Regions from separate parts of the Homo sapiens genome. Here region 1 is linked to region 2. Evidence: fine-mapped expression QTL. Tissue or cell type: whole blood. Region 2 holds a variant in brackets; the other region holds the start of a gene. All regions are shown on one strand. Distances are between the middles of the regions.

Region 1 (8,102 bases), 97 kb before region 2:
GATACGTTGACCAAGTGCAAAAGAAGCAATTACCAGAAACAAAATGATTATCCATCTTTGTAAAAAGTCTTGAAGACAGGGACCCAGATTATAAAGTCCTGGCAATGAAAACATGCCCCAGAATCCAGCTGAGTCTGTTTTTAGGGAGCCAGGAGGATTTTCTCTTTTCAGTTTACTCATGTTCTACTGACTCTGTAGTATGTTCTACTGGCCCAGTAGTATGTGAGTATGGTGACAAGTGTTGCTAAATACAAACTCCTCCTTGGCCAGCTAAGAAGAAATCAAGGGTTATATAATTATCCATGAAAACTCTGGCTAAGGAATTCAAATTTAAGTGGTTTTCTGAGCTGCTATAGCAGAAGTTTTGCTATCTATGGGGTCTGCTAAGGTCAAATACCTCTCTTGGATCTGATCTCTTTCTGTTGTATTATCTTTGTTGTAGGAATTTCATTCACAGAGTACACATGAAAAATGAGTCAGTTATCCCTCCTGGGAGTTCTCCCAAGTAGTCTGTGATTGTGTGCTTGCTTCATTTTGTTGGTTTCTGGGTGTTCTTTTCAAAGAAACACAGTCTACTGGAGGGGTGGTAATTTTAAGCACTGGAGGGTCTCTAACAATTAGCTTCAATATAAAGGGTAAGTTAGTGGGCAAGCCAGATGTTCCCATAAATAAGTAGTACCCTAGGGGAGTACAGACTGCATTGGGAGGATAAGGGCTATTTAGCACATCAGGGACAAGCCAACTTTCTTTCCCTCAGGATAAGCAGATTTCTTGGATGAAGTTAAACAGGTTTCTCCAAAGCAGGCTGGAATGTTTTGGAAGAGAATGACCTGAGTAGTGTATAAAGAATAGCCCCAATATTAGTTTCTATTCCTGAAGGGCTAGGTTTTTCTCATAGGATTGTAATGACTTCAGGGAAACATTCTGTTGAAGTGTAGGTCAAGGTCCAATTTTTAGAAGACTGAGGTTTGGGATGAACTTTGTGGGGAATGCTTAAGTACCAGAAGTGACCTACAGAAGAAAATCTACTTGATGAAGTCTATGAAAGCACAGTTATTAAATTTTGTCAACAATTCCTTAAAAGCAGTAGCTACGGTTTGAGAAAAACACTCCAGAAAGTGTCTCTTTTCTTTTCTTTTTTTCCTTCCCTTTCCTTTCTCTTTCCCTTTCCCCTTTCCCCTCCTTTCCTTTCCTTTCTCTTTCTCTCTTCTCCCTTTCTCTCTTTCTTTTTTAGATTGGGTTTCACTTTGTTGCCCATTGGCACGATCACAGCTCACTGCAGTCTTGGACTCCTGAGCTTCAAGGACCCTCTTGCCTCAGCCTCCTGAGTAGCTGGGACTCCAGATACGTGCCACCATGCCCAGCTAATTTTTTATTGTTTTTAGAGATGGGGGTCTTGCTACATTGCCTACGTTAGTTAGACTCCTGGTCTCAAGTGATCTTCCCACCTTGGCTTTCTAAAGTGCTGGAATTACAGGTATGACCCACTGCACCTGGCCAAATAATGTTTACTTTAAGTAGTAGAACATAGGGAGTCAAAAGTAACAGGATGAAGATAAGGGTTATCTCCCCGAGAAATCAATTTGTTAGTTAATCAAGGGTGTCAAAATGCAATAAGCAAGATTAGTGGTAGGGTAAGAGATGCCAAGGAATCAGAAATTAATCTTGTCCTGTTGTCTTGGGTATAAACTGCCCATTTCTGCAGTAAGCAGCTTCTGGGGAAGTCCCAGGAATCTTCAGTTTGAGGTCTTCCAATAGTATGGGATGTCCGGTAGCCAGGAGAAAATGATGCATGTCTTTTTAGTTGTGTAATATGAATCCAGGGATCAATGTCTTCTAGTTTTACTCCTGGGTCAGTTGTTGATAGTACCTGACATTTTTTTTTCTTGCATTGAGGCTCAAGGGAAATTGTTTTCTAATGCTTTTTCAGAAGACCAAATCTCTAACTTCAGAAGCTGCTTAGGTGGGTGCTTTGAGAATGCAGCTTCCATCTGTTGTTGATAAAGCAGGAGTTAATCTTAGAAGTCTCCTGCAGCAATTAGTGATAACAGCTTATATTAGTAGCATCTAGTATTGGAAGTAATTCACAAATACATGAGGAAGCCTGTTATTAACTCAGAAGGAGATAACTTATGGGCCTTAGAATGGACTGACCTTATTGCCATCAAGGCAAATAGAAGTACTTTGGGCTTTGGAAGTTAGATGGAAGTTAGAGAACTTTGAAAGCTATTTTTTAGAATTCTATTAGTTCTCTTTATCTTTCCTGAAATTTGTGGATGCAAAAAGATAGCGGAGTTTCTAAAAAGGTAAAGCTTTACAGTTATTTAATATCAGTGAAATGTGTGTCCTCTTACTGGAGATAAACATTGAGATTTCACATTCAGGAATACAAAATTAATAAATTCTTTTCTACTATTACAGTAATAGGTCTCCGGCAAGGAGAACCCCTAAACCCCTTAAGAATAAATAACCCTAATGTACTCATAGTCCATTTAGAGGTGTTCAACAGAACTCCAAGACTGGGCTCCAGTTCATGTTCTACCCTTAAAGTTTTGCCAGGATTGGGTCATTGACAGGTAGGCAGGACATACATCCTTGGCAATAACCCTAAAATTGCCCCACCAACATTGGTTCAGCATCATTATCAATGTATCTCTACTATTGTGGGTAATACCATGAAGACTTTTTGCTGGACTCCACTTTAATTATGGCTATTTCCTTTGGTAACAGTGAAGCATCTCAAGATTATAATTATTATTTAAAATTTTAATTTAAAAATTTTCCCCATAGGTTATTGGGGGTACAGGTGGTGTCTGGTTACATGGCATCTTAAGATACTTTAATTTGCCATTCATTTCGTAGAGGTTCCTGAAGCGGTCAGGAAATCTTTGTTTTTAAAGCACTCCAAAGTCATTGACGAACCACCAAAACATATGTACTATCAGTATAAATATTTGCTCTGTTATCCTTTAACAGCTGGTTGGTCTAGGCCAGGGCAATTCCTACACTAACAGAGGACCTGGGATGGCATACTGAGTCAGCCACTTACTAGGTAAGAAACTTTGGGCAAATTAATTTTTTTAGCCTCAGATTCTTCATACATGAAATAGTAATACTTGTCTCACAGAACCGTGAGCATCTAATGAGTTATTGTACAATAACCAACCTATCACTAAGTCCTTCACATTGATTATTTCCTTTAATTATCACACCCATCCTATGCGATGGCCTATTATCATCGTTTTATAAACACAAAGTCACACCACTTTAAGTGGTGATGCCAGGATTCAAACTCCGATCTTTCTGATGCCAGTGCCCAGTTCTTAATCCCTCTAACAACCCGTGACACTTTTCCACGGTTAGGTTCAAGCGCCCACCATACAGCTTGACACTTTAGGAGATACTCAACCTTTAAAACTTTATAATTTGCATGTGTGATTATAACGGGTACGTCCTAGAGTTTGATCTCTTCTCTGTGCAGGGGCGAAACTCGACCCCAGCCGAGAACTACACTGTCCTTGCGCGGGGCCCTCTGCGCCCCGGAAGGCGCCCAGTCCCGGTTTATTGTGAGCTTACAGTACAGTTCGCAAGGTCCCGGCCGGTGACGGCGGCGAGGCGGCAACGTCGCCTGTAGCAAACCTCCGCCCTAAGGCGTTCCCGCCGGGCCTCGCGCGGCGTCCCTAGCAACGCGCGCGCGGTCTTCCGGCCCCGCCCAGGCGGGCGGCACTGCGCCTAAGCTGGGCCACAACCGCCAGTCAGGGCTCTCCCCTTCCCCTCCCTCCCCCCCTCCTCCTCCTCCTCTGCCGCCCAGAGCGAGACACCAACATGGAGCCCGAGGATCTGCCATGGCCGGGCGAGCTGGAGGAGGAGGAGGAGGAGGAGGAGGAGGAGGAGGAGGAAGAGGAGGAGGCTGCAGCGGCGGCGGCGGCGAACGTGGACGACGTAGTGGTCGTGGAGGAGGTGGAGGAAGAGGCGGGGCGGGAGTTGGACTCCGACTCTCACTACGGGCCCCAGCATCTGGAAAGTATAGACGACGAGGAGGACGAGGAGGCCAAGGCCTGGCTGCAGGCGCACCCCGGCAGGATTTTGCCTCCGCTGTCGCCCCCGCAGCACCGCTACTCGGAGGGCGAGCGGACCTCCCTGGAGAAGGTGAGGCGGGCCGGGGAGGGGTGTGGAGCCGCGGCGAGTTGGGGGTGGAGGCTGGGCCCCGAGCGCTCCGCCCGCCCGCAGGTCACGCCGCCTGACGGAGAAAACGCGCGCAGCTGAGGCTAGTAGGCGGCCCAGACTCCAGCCCAGGTGCCGGCCGGCTGCTCCGCGTCTCCCAGGCTTTGTGGCAAAGACTTCTCGTTTCCTCCCCCTCGGTGGGTCCTGGGCCTTTTGAACTCCCGTAGACGTTCAGGGGAGCCTGCATTCCCCGTGAGAAACGCTGAGAGAGGACCACGGGTGTGTCGAGCCTTGAAGGAGGGAAAAGGCGGTGTAGGACCGGAGCGAGTGGTTGCCTGGGGAGCATCTTGTTGGGGAGACAGTGAACAGATGAGCTTGACTGAATTGCAGGACTCCCCTGAGGGAGTAATGTGGATAATGTACACCGCGCGATCACTTAGTCTGGAGAGGCTCCCCGCGGGTTTTCCTCCCCTGGACCATCATTTGTAGCAATAAAGGGGTTCCCCAGCCGATAGGAGGGGCTTGGAATGCAGGAGGCTTGTGATGCGGCTCCAAACAGTCTGCAAAACTACAAAGCACAGATAATACACAATGGAGAAAGCCGATTTCATGGTAGACCCCCGAAGATCATTTTGAAAATAACTCTCCATTTAATTTGCTGCCCTTACCCCCCTTTTTTTAACTTACTGCTTTTCGAGGAGCAAGACCTGCCCTGCTCAGTACAGTAGCCACTGGCCACGTGTGGCTTTTTACATCTTAAAGAGAAAACTATTATAGTTTTGAGTAAGAGTTAAAAATAAATTAAATGAAAAATTCCATGCGTCTGTTCTTACCGGTTTTCAAGTGCTCAGCAGCCACACTAGGCTAGTGGCTACCATGTTGGACAGAGCAGATAATGGAACAGTTCCATCATCACAGACAGTGAAGGTGTAGAGTTTTGTCACTAATGAGCAGTAGTTGTTGTTTTGTCTGGTGAATATTCCAGGGGGTACTTAATTCATTGAACATGTATTATTAGAATTCACCATGTGCCACACATTGTGCTGGGTGCTAAGGAAAGCTTGGTGAACCCAAACATTTTTGGTCTCTGCCTTCCTTGTGTTCATGGTCTAGACAGGGAGGCAGACAGATTTCAGATGATCACATAAAGTGAAACTAATATATGTGCTAATATTCTATGAAAGCATAAAGTAAGATAATCTGGCCTTGTCAGTGAAGTTGGGAAAGCCTTCTTGAGGAGGTTATGATAGAGCTGATATCTGAAGACAGTTTAAGGTTAATCAGGCAAAGGGGAGGGAAAGAGCCGTCTAGCTGAGGGAAAAACACATGAAAAGGTACTGTTGATGAGAGAGAGCATGGCATTTTCCAGGACCCAGAAGCCAACGTGGTTTGAGCACAGACTGCAAGGCTTTGTGTGCTATGCCAAGGATTTAGGGGCTTTATCTCTGGAGCTTTGGGGAGTTGAAGAAAATATTTGAAACGAGGGGATGTATGATAAGTTAGGTGTTTCAGAAAGGTCAGGTGTATAGCAGAGTGTGGAACAGCTGTGATAGCAAGGTGGGATGGGGAGCAGTAGCCATAGGTCAAGGGCATAAATTAGGAGACCATTGCAGCATTGCCCGGCAAAAGATGATGAAAGTTTGGAATAGGGAAGTGTTGGTGGATACAGGGAAAAGTGGACTGATTTGAGAGATATTTAAGAGGCAAAATCATCATACTTAATAACGGATGGGATGTGAAAGGTGAAGTAGCCAGGTGTTAGGTTATTGTTTGAATGGTTGTGCCAATATTAAGATATGGCCAGATTTATGGTGGAGGTGGTGGCTGTGAGTGGGTGGTGGAATTGGTTGGGTGAGTCTTAAGATTATGAGTTTGGTTTTGAAGATTGAAGGAGAAGGCTGGGCTAGAGATTTCAAGTTGTAAGTCATTTACATAGAGACCATAATTAAAGCCACACTTGTTGACTAGGTCTTCTAACTTTTATTTTGTCCTGTGACTTCTTGCTTGAATAACTATTAATATTCAAACTTTATCTTGAAGCCTAGAGGAGGAGTTTTTTAAACAAAATTTTAATTTAATTTTAGATTTGGGGGTACATATGCACGTAATTAACATGGATATATTGCATAATGGTGAGGTTTGGGCTTCTAGTGAACCTCTCACCCAAATAATATACCTTTGTACGTGATAGTGTAACATTGTACTTGATAGGTAATTTTTCAGCCCTTCTCTCCTCCTTCTGGAGCCCCCAGTGTCTGTTTATTTCCATCTTTATGTCTGTGGGTACTTATTGTACCCATTTATCTTTATGCCTCTGTGTACCCATTGTACCCACTTGTCTTACCAGTGAGAGCATGTGGTATTTGATTTTCTGTTTCTGAATTGTTTCACTTGATAAATAGCCTCCAGGCTCCATCCATGTTGCTGCAAAGGACAGGATTTCATTCTGTTTATAGCTGCATAATATTCCACAATGTATATTAATACATACTACATTTTCTTTACCCATTCAGTTGTTGATGGACACTTAGGTTGATTTCATGACTTTGCTATTGTGAACGGTGCTGTGATAAACATATGAGCACAGATTTTTTTCTTTTTTTTTAATGGCGTCTAGCTGGTGTAGAACACCTGGGCTCAAGTGATACTCCGCCTTGGCTTCCCAAAGTGCTGGGATTACAGGTGTGAGCCAGTGTGCCTGGCTCAGATGTCTTTTTGATGAAATGATTTAATTTCCTTTGGAGAGATACCCAGTAGTAGGATTGCTGGGTCAAATGGTAGTTCTGTTTTGAGTTCTTCAAGAAATCTCCATACTGCTTTCCATAGGAGTTGAACAATTTACATTCCCAACAACAGTGTATACGTGTTCCCTTTTCTTCTCATCCTTGCCAACATCTGTTTTTTGACTTTTTAATAATAGCCATTCTGACTGGTGTGAGATGGTATCTCATTGTGATTTTAATTTGCATTTCTCTGATGCTTAGTGATGTTGAGCATTTTTTCATGTTTTTTGGCCGCTCGTATGTCTTCTTTTGAGAAGTGTCTGTTCAGTCTTTTGCCCGCTTTTTAGTGGGGTTATTTGTTTTTTCTTCCTGTTGATTTGTTTGAGTTCCTTATAGATGCTGGATATTAGTCCTTTGTCAGATGCATAGTTTGCAGATATTTTCTCCCATCCTGTAGGTTGTCTGTTTACTCTGTTGGTAGTTTATTTTGCTGTGCAGGAGCTCTTCTAGTTTAATTAAGTTCCATTTGTCTGTTTTTATTTTTGTTGCATTTGCTTTTGAGGTCTTAATCATAAACTTTTTTCCTAAGTATTCTTTAGGATTATTATAATTTCGGGCCTTACATTTAAATCTTTAATCTATCTTGAGTTAATCTTTGCATATGGTGAGAGATAGGGACCCAGAGGAGGAATTTTTAAGCTAACCCTCTTTTACTACAGCCAATGTGAGAAAATTATTTTCCTGTTTAATAATGAACTATCTTTTTTTTCCCCCGCCGAGATGAAGTCTTGCTCTGTTGCCCAGGCTGGAGTGCAGTGTCACGATCTTGGTTCACTGCAACCTCTGCCTCCTGGGTTCAAGCAATTCTCCTGCCTCAGCCTCCCGAGTAGCTGGGATTACAGGTATCCACCACCACGCCTGGCTAATTTTTGTAGTTTTAGTAGAGATGGGGTTTCACCATGTTGGCCAGGCTGGTCTTGAACTCCTGACCTGTGATCTGCCTGCCTCAGCCTCCCAAAGTGTTGGGATTAGAGGCATGAGCCACCGCGCCCGGCCTCTAATCGTGAACTATCTATGGGTAATAGAAAATCTTACTTCTGAGAGCCCAGAGTATTTTTTCCTCCCCACAGTTTTTTCTTTCCCCTGAGAAAAATTAGATATTTTCTTATTTACCTGAGAGAATATATGATAATATATAGAATATATAGATGATTT
Region 2 (8,102 bases):
CTTCCACTTCTCTCCTGCCCCACCTTTTACTGAGCTCCTGGCAACCACTAATTTGTTCCTTTGTTTCTATAACTTTGTAATTTCAAGAATGTCATATAAATGATAACATATAGTATGCAACCTTATTGTATTGGCCTTTTTTTCACTCAGCATACTTATCTGGAGATTCATCCAGACTGTTTTATGTATCAGTAGTTTTTCTTTTTTATTGATGTATAGTATTCCAAAGTATGAATGCACCACAGTTTAAATATTCACTATTGAAGGACATCTTGGTTGTTTCCCAGTTTTTGGCTTTACCAGTACAGCTGCTGTAAACATTCATATGCAAGTTTTTGTGTGAATATGTCTTTGTTTCTGTGGGGTAGATGCCCAGGATTGCAATTGCTGGGTCATGTGGTAGTTGCATGTTTAGTTTTTTGAAAGACAGGCCACACCTTTTTCCAGGGTGGTTATATCATTTACATTCCCACCAGCAGTGTGTGAGTAATCCGTCTACTCCATATCCTCACCAGCATTTGATACTGTCACTATTTTTATTCTAGTCATTCTAATAGGTATGTAGTGGTATCTTATTAAGTTTTTAATGTGTATTTCCCTAATGGTTTTTGATGTTGCACATTTTTTAATATTTCTGTTTCCAGTCTCTTTCTCCTGTTAAGTGAAATGTCTGTATCTTTTGCCCATTTTCTTTTTTTATTTTTATTTTTATTTATTTATTTTTATTATTATACTTTAAGTTTTAGGGTACATGTGCACATTGTGCAGGTTAGTTACATATGTATACATGTGCCATGCTGGTGTGCTGCACCCACTAACTTGTCATCTAGCATTAGGTATATCTCCTAATGCTATCCGTCCCCACTCCCCCCACCCCACCACAGTCCCCAGAGTGTGATATTCTCCTTCCTGTGTCCATGTGATCTCATTGTTCAATTCCCACCTATGAGTGAGAATATGCGGTGTTTGCTTTTTGTTCTTGCGATAGTTTACTGAGAATGATGATTTCCAATTTCATCCATGTCCCTACAAAGGACATGAACTCATCATTTTTTATGGCTGCATAGTATTCCATGGTGTATATGTGCCACATTTTCTTAATCCAGTCTATAATTCTTGGACATTTGGATTGGTTCCAAGTCTTTGCTATTGTGAATAATGCCGCAATAAACATACGTGTGCATGTGTCTTTATAGCAGCATGATTTATAGTCCTTTGGGTATATACCCAGTAATGGGATGGCTGGGTCAAATGGTATTTCTAGTTCTAGATCCCTGAGGAATCGCCACATTGACTTCCACAATGGTTGAACTAGTTTACAGTCCCACCAACAGTGTAAAAGTGTTCCTATTTCTCCACATCCTCTCCAGCACCTGTTGTTTCCTGACTTTTTAATGATTGCCATTCTAACTGGTGTGAGATGGTATCTCATTGTGGTTTTGATTTGCATTTCTCTGATGTCCAGTGATGATGAGCATTTTTTCATGTGTTTTTTGTCTGCATAAATGTCTTCTTTTGAGAAGTGTCTGTTCATGTCCTTCGCCCACTTTTTGATGGGGTTGTTTGTTTTTTTCTTGTAAATTTGTTTGAGTTCATTGTAGATTCTGGATATTAGCCCTTTGTCAGATGAGTAGGTTGCGAAAATTTTCTCCCATTTTGTAGGTTTCCTGTTCACTCTGATGGTAGTTTCTTTTGCTGTGCAGAAGCTCTTTAGTTTAATTAGATCCCATTTGTCAATTTTGTCTTTTGTTGCCATTGCTTTTGGTGTTTTAGACATGAAGTCCTTGCCCACACCTATGTCCTGAATGGTAATGCCTAGGTTTTCTTCTAGGGTTTTTATGGTTTTCAGTCTAACATGTAAGTCTTTAATCCATCTTGAATTAATTTTTGTATACGGTGTAAGGAAGGGATCCAGTTTCAGCTTTCTACATATGGCTAGCCAGTTTTCCCAGCACCATTTATTAAACAGGGAATCCTTTCCCCATTGCTTGTTTTTCTCAGGTTTGTCAAAGATCAGATAGTTGTAGATATGCTGCATTATTTCTGAGGGCTCTGTTCTGTTCCATTGATCTATATCTCTGTTTTGGTACCAGTACCATGCTGTTTTGGTTACTGTAGCCTTGTAGTATAGTTTGAAGTCAGGTAGCGTGATGCCTCCAGGTTTGTTCTTTTGGCTTAGGATTGACTTGGCGATGCAGGCTCTTTTTTGGTTCCATATGAACTTTAAAGTAGTTTTTTCCAATTCTGTGAAGAAAGGCATTGGTAGCTTGATGGGGATGGCATTGAATCTGTAAGTTACCTTGGGCCGTATGGCCATTTTCACGATATTGATTCTTCCTACCCATGAGCATGGAATGTTCTTCCATTTGTTTGTATCCTCTTTTATTTCCTTGAGTAGTGGTTTGTAGTTCTCCTTGAAGAGGTCCTTCACATCCCTTGTAAGTTGGATTCCTAGGTATTTTATTCTCTTTGAAGCAATTGTGAATGGGAGTTCACTCATGATTTGGCTCTCTGTTTGTCTGTTGTTGGTGTATAAGGATGCTTGTGATTTTTGTACATTGATTTTGTATCCTGAGACTTTGCTGAAGTTGCTTATCAGCTTAAGGAGATTTTGGGCTGAGACAGTGGGGTTTTCTAGATATACAATCATGTCATCTGCAAACAGGGACAATTTGACTTCCTCTTTTCCTAATTGAATAGCTTTTATTTCCTTCTCCTGCCTAATTGCCCTGGCCAGAACTTCCAACACCATGTTGAATAGGAGTGGTGAGAGAGGGCATCCCTGTCTTGTGCCGGTTTTCAAAGGGAATGCTTCCAGTTTTTGGGCATTCAGTATGATATTGGCTGTGGGTTTGTCATAGATAACTCTTATTATTTTGAAATACGTCCCATCAATACCTAATCTATTGAGAGTTTTTAGCATGAAGTGTTGTTGAATTTTGTCAAAGGCTTTTTCTGCATCTATTGAGAAAATCATGTGGTTTTTGTCTTTGGCTCTGTTTATATGCTGGATTACATTTATTGATTTGCATATATTGAACCAGCCTTGCATCCCAGGGATGAAGCCCACTTGATCATGGTGGATAAGCTTTTCGGTGTGCTGCTGGATTCAGTTTGCCAGTATTTTATTGAGGATTTTTGCATCAATGTTCATCAAGGATATTGGTCTAAAATTCTCTTTTTTTGTTGTGTCTCTGCCTGGCTTTGGTATCAGAATGATGCTGGCCTCATAAAAAGAGTTAGGGAGGATTCCCTCTTTTTCCATTGATTGGAATAGTTTCAGAAGGAATGGTACCAGTTCCTTCTTGTACCTCTGGTAGAATTCGGCTGTTAATCCATCTGGTCCTGGACTCTTTTTGGTTGGTAAGCTATTGATTATTGCCACAATTTCAGATCCTGTTATTGGTCTATTCAGAGATTCAACTTCTTCCTGGTTTAGTCTTGGGAGAGTGTATGTGTCGAGGAATTTATCCATTTCTTCTAGATTTTCTAGTTTATTTGCATAGAGGTGTTTGTAGTATTCTCTGATGGTAGTTTGTATTTCTGTGGGATCGGTGGTGATATCCCCTTTATCATTTTTAATTGTGTCTATTTGATTCTTCTCTCTTTTTTTCTTTATTAGTCTTGCTAGCAGTCTTTTGTTGATCCTTTCAAAAAACCAGCTCCTGGATTCATTAATTTTTTGAAGGGTTTTTTGTGTCTCTATTTCCTTCAGTTCTGCTCTGATTTTAGTTATTTCTTGCCTTCTGCTAGCTTTTGAATGTGTTTGCTCTTGCTTTTCTAGTTCTTTTAATTGTGATGTTAGGGTGTCAATTTTGGATCTTTCCTGCTTTCTCTT[G/T]TGGGCATTTAGTGCTATAAATTTCCCTCTACACACTGCTTTGAATGTGTCCCAGAGATTCTGGTATGTTGTGTCTTTGTTCTCGTTGGTTTCAAAGAACATCTTTATTTGTGCCTTCATTTCGTTATGTACCCAGTAGTCATTCAGGAGCAGGTTGTTCAGTTTCCATGTAGTTGAGCGGTTTTGAGTGAGATTCTTAATCTTGAGTTCTAGTTTGATTGCACTGTGGTCTGAGAGATAGTTTGTTATAATTTCTGTTCTTTTACATTTGTTGAGGAGAGCTTTAGTTCCAAGTATGTGGTCAATTTTGGAATAGGTGTGGTGTGGTGCTGAAAAAAATGTATATTCTGTTGATTTGGGGTGGAGAGTTCTGTAGATGTCTATTAGGTCCACTTGGTGCAGAGCTGAGTTCAGTTCCTGGGTATCCTTGTTGACTTTCTGTCTCGTTGATCTGTCTAATGTTGACAGTGGGGTGTTAAAGTCTCCCATGATTAATGTGTGGGAGTCTAAGTCTCTTTGTAGGTCACTCAGGACTTGCTTTATGAATCTGGGTGCTCCTGTATTGGGTGCATATATATTTAGGATAGTTAGCTCTTCTTGTTGAATTGATCCCTTTACCATTATGTAATGGCCTTCTTTGTCTCTTTTGATCTTTGTTGGTTTAAAGTCTGTTTTATCAGAGACTAGGATTGCAACCCCTGCCTTTTTTTGTTTTCCATTTGCTTGGTAGATCTTCCTCCATCCTTTTATTTTGAGCCTATGTGTGTCTCTGCATGTGAGATGGGTTTCCTGAATACAGCACACTGATGGGTCTTGACTCTTTATCCAATTTGCCAGTCTTTGCCTTTTAATTGGAGCATTTAGTCCATTTATATTTAAAGTTAATATTGTTATGTGTGAATTTGATCCTGTCATTATGATGTTAGCTGGTTATTTTGCTCATTAGTTGATGCAGTTTCTTCCTAGTCTTGATGGTCTTTACATTTTGGCATGATTTTGCAGCGGCTGGTACTGGTTGTTCCTTTCCATGTTTAGTGCTTCCTTCAGGAGCTCTTTTAGGGCAGGCCTAGTGGTGACAAAATCTCTCAGCATTTGCTTGTCTGTAAAGGATTTTATTTCTCCTTCACTTATGAAGCTTAGTTTGGCTGGATATGAAATTCTGGGTTGAAAATTCTTTTCTTTAAGAATGTTGAATATTGGCCCCCACTCTCTTCTGGCTTATAGGGTTTCTGCCGAGAGATCCGCTGTTAGTCTGATGGGCTTCCCTTTGTGGGTAATCCGACCTTTCTCTCTGGCTGTCCTTAACATTTTTTCCTTCATTTCAACTTTGGTGAATCTGACAATTAATGTGTCTTGGAGTTGCTCTTCTCGAGGAGTATCTTTGTGGCGTTCTCTGTATTTCCTGAATCTGAATGTTGGCCTGCCTTGCTAGATTGGGGAAGTTCTCCTGGATAATATCCTGCAGAGTGTTTTCCAACTTGGTTCCATTCTCCCCATCACTTTCAGGTACACCAATCAGACGTAGATTTGTTCTTTTCACATAGTCCCATATTTCTTGGAGGCTTTGCTCATTTCTTTTTATTCTTTTTTCTCTAAACTTCCCTTCTCGCTTCATTTCATTCATTTCTTCTTCCATCGCTGATACCCTTTCTTCCAGTTGATGGCATCGGCTCTTGAGGCTTCTGCATTCTTCACATAGTTCTCGAGCCTTGTTTTTCAGCTCCATCAGCTCCTTTAAGCACTTCTCTGTATTGGTTATTCTAGTTACACATTCTTCTAAATTTTTTTCAAAGTTTTCAACTTCTTTGCCTTTGGTTTGAATGTCCTCCCGTAGCTCAGAGTAATTTGATCGTCTGAAGCCTTCTTCTCTCAGCTCGTCAAAGTCATTCTCCATCCAGCTTTGTTCCATTGCTGGTGAGGAACTGTGTTCCTTTGGAGGAGGAGAGGTGCTCTGCTTTTTAGAGTTTCCAGTTTTTCTGCTCTGTTTTTTCCCCATCTTTGTGGTTTTATCTACTTTTGGTCTTTGATGATGGTGATGTACAGATGGGTTTTTGGTGTGGATGTCCTTTCTATTTGTTAATTTTCCTTCTAACAGACAGGACCCTCCGCTGCAGGTCTGTTGGAATACCCTGCCGTGTGAGGTGTCAGTGTGCCCCTGCTGGGAGGTGCCTCCCTGTTAGGCTGCTCAGGGGTCAGGGGTCAGGGACCCACTTGAGGAGGCAGTCTGCCCGTTCTCAGATCTCCAGCTGTGTGCTGGGAGAACCACTGCTCTCTTCAAAGCTGTCAGACAGGGACATTTAAGTCTGCAGAGGTTACTGCTGCTTTTTGTTTGTCTGTGCCCTTCCTCCAGAGATGTAGCCTACAGAGGCAGGCAGGCCTCCTTGAGCTGTGGTGGGCTCCACCCAGTTCGAGCTTCCAGGCTGCTTTGTTTACCTAAGCAAGCCTGGGCAATGGCGGGCGCCCCTCCCCCAGCCTCGCTGCCACCTTGCAGTTTGATCTCAGACTGCTGTGCTAGCAATCAGCGAGACTCCGTGGGCCTAGGACGCTCGGAGCCAGGTGCGGGGTATAATCTCGTGGTGCGCCGTTTTTTAAGCCGGTTGGAAAAGCGCAGTATTCGGGTGGGAGTGACCCGATTTTCCAGGTGCGTCCGTCACCCCTTTCTTTGACTAGGAAAGGGAACTCCCTGACCCCTTGCGCTTCCCAAGTGAGGCAATGCCTTGCCCTGCTTCGTCTCGCACACGGTGCGCGCACCCACTGACCTGCGCCCACTGTCTGGCACTCCCTAGTTAGATGAACCCAGTACCTCAGATGGAAGTGCAGAAATCACCGTCTTCTGCGTGGCTCACGCTGGGAGCTGTAGACCGGAGCTGTTCCTATTCGGCCATCTTGGCTCCTGTCCCTCTTTTGCCCATTTTTTAATTGGATTGTCTTTTTTTTCCCTTTTTACTGTTGTGAATTGTATATATATGTTAGTATATATGTTAGATGTAAGGCTAGCAGATACAAGACCTTTGTTGGATATGAGGTTTGCAAATATTTTCTTGTAACCTGTAGCTGGGAGAGAGAGGGGCATTTTGTTTTGCTGGATAGTCTAGGTAGGCTTCGCTAGACTTTCACTGACGCCGCAAGGAAGGGATAGCACTTTATCAGCCAGCAGAGATGAAAGTAAGTCCTGGGTTCCTCACTTGGCCTTTGCTGGTGTTGGTGTGAGTGGGTCTAGTTTTTTCTGTGATGGTTGGCTGGAGTAGAATGGTTATTATTTAAAAGTTCTCTCTTTTGCTAGGCTTCACCTCTACTGGGTTTTTAGCTAGTGAGAAAAGCTCTTGTTAGGGTTTTTTGTCTGTGTCCATTGTTCCTGGGTAGCTGACTTCTTCAGCTCCAAGTCTGTATATGCAAGAGAAAAAGAAAACCCAGTGATTGCACCACAGCATAATTCCTCAGGTCCCTAGATCTCTAGCTAATCTACGTTCTTCTCTACATCTTTCAGATTCTTCTTACATTTGTTTTATATATATTTTCCAGTGGGCTGAATTATACTTAGCAGGAGAAATAGGGAAAAGTACATCTGGCCAGGCGCAGTGGCTCATGCCTGTAATCCCAGCACTTTGGGGAGGCTGAGGCAGGAGGATCCCTTGAATCCAGGAGTTGGAGACCAGCCTGGGCAACAAAGTGAGACCCAGTCTCTACAAAAATAAAAATAAGAAAATTAGCCCGGTGTAGTGGCATGTGCCTGTTGTCCCAGCTATCCAGGAGGCTGAGGTGGCAGGATCGCCTGAGCCTGGGAGGTCGTGGCTTCAGTGATAGTGCCACAGCATTCCAGCCTGGGTGACACAGCAAGACCCTGTCTTAAACAAAGAAGAAGAGAAAAGAAAGAAAAATGTCACAGGATCCTCAGGGTGTCAGTTTGCAAGCTGGAAACCACTGTGGCCAGCAGCACCTTCTGCCTGAGTATTGTTCACACTGCTGGGCACATTCTCCGCACTTGGCCTGGCAGGCTGTGCTTGGCTCGCACTACTATGCTATGTCTTACACCTGCCAAGCATGAGCCAGGTGTGGAGTGGTGAGGGGTGTGTGGGCAAGCAAGTGTGGGGTCTAGCCACTGTACACAGCCAGGCATGCTGACGGCTGTGGTAGGGCAGGCAGCTCCAGTGCTGGCACTGGTGCTGGCGCCACGCAAGGCTGCAGCTGGACCAGATGTACTGTGCGTGGCTTCTGCTGTGGGCACCCACATCTGGGTGAGGGAAATGTGGTGGTGGCAACTGGA

Evidence for each region. PIP is the estimated chance that this variant, and not a neighbour inherited with it, causes the effect.
Region 1: ALMS1 starts here. The variant in region 2 is fine-mapped to the expression of ALMS1 in whole blood (INTERVAL, PIP 0.92).

Annotation. Positions count from the first base shown.
Region 1 is chr2:73,382,044-73,390,145 of GRCh38, forward strand. It overlaps ALMS1 (ALMS1 centrosome and basal body associated protein), which reads left to right and starts at 3,793. Exons shown (of 23, transcript NM_001378454.1): 1 at 3,793-4,149. The coding sequence starts at 3,826. It overlaps LOC105374804 (a long non-coding RNA gene), which reads right to left and starts at 3,638. Exons shown (of 4, transcript XR_007087053.1): 1 at 3,410-3,638. RefSeq lists enhancers at 3,552-4,301, 4,342-4,581 and silencers at 3,552-3,951, 4,112-4,281.
Region 2 is chr2:73,479,362-73,487,463 of GRCh38, forward strand. All of the region lies in intron 9 of ALMS1 (ALMS1 centrosome and basal body associated protein), which reads left to right. Among named protein-coding and RNA genes, the nearest start is that of ALMS1-IT1, 26 kb to the left of the region's middle. RefSeq lists an enhancer at 7,459-7,978. The variant G/T (reference allele first, on the strand shown) is at 3,839.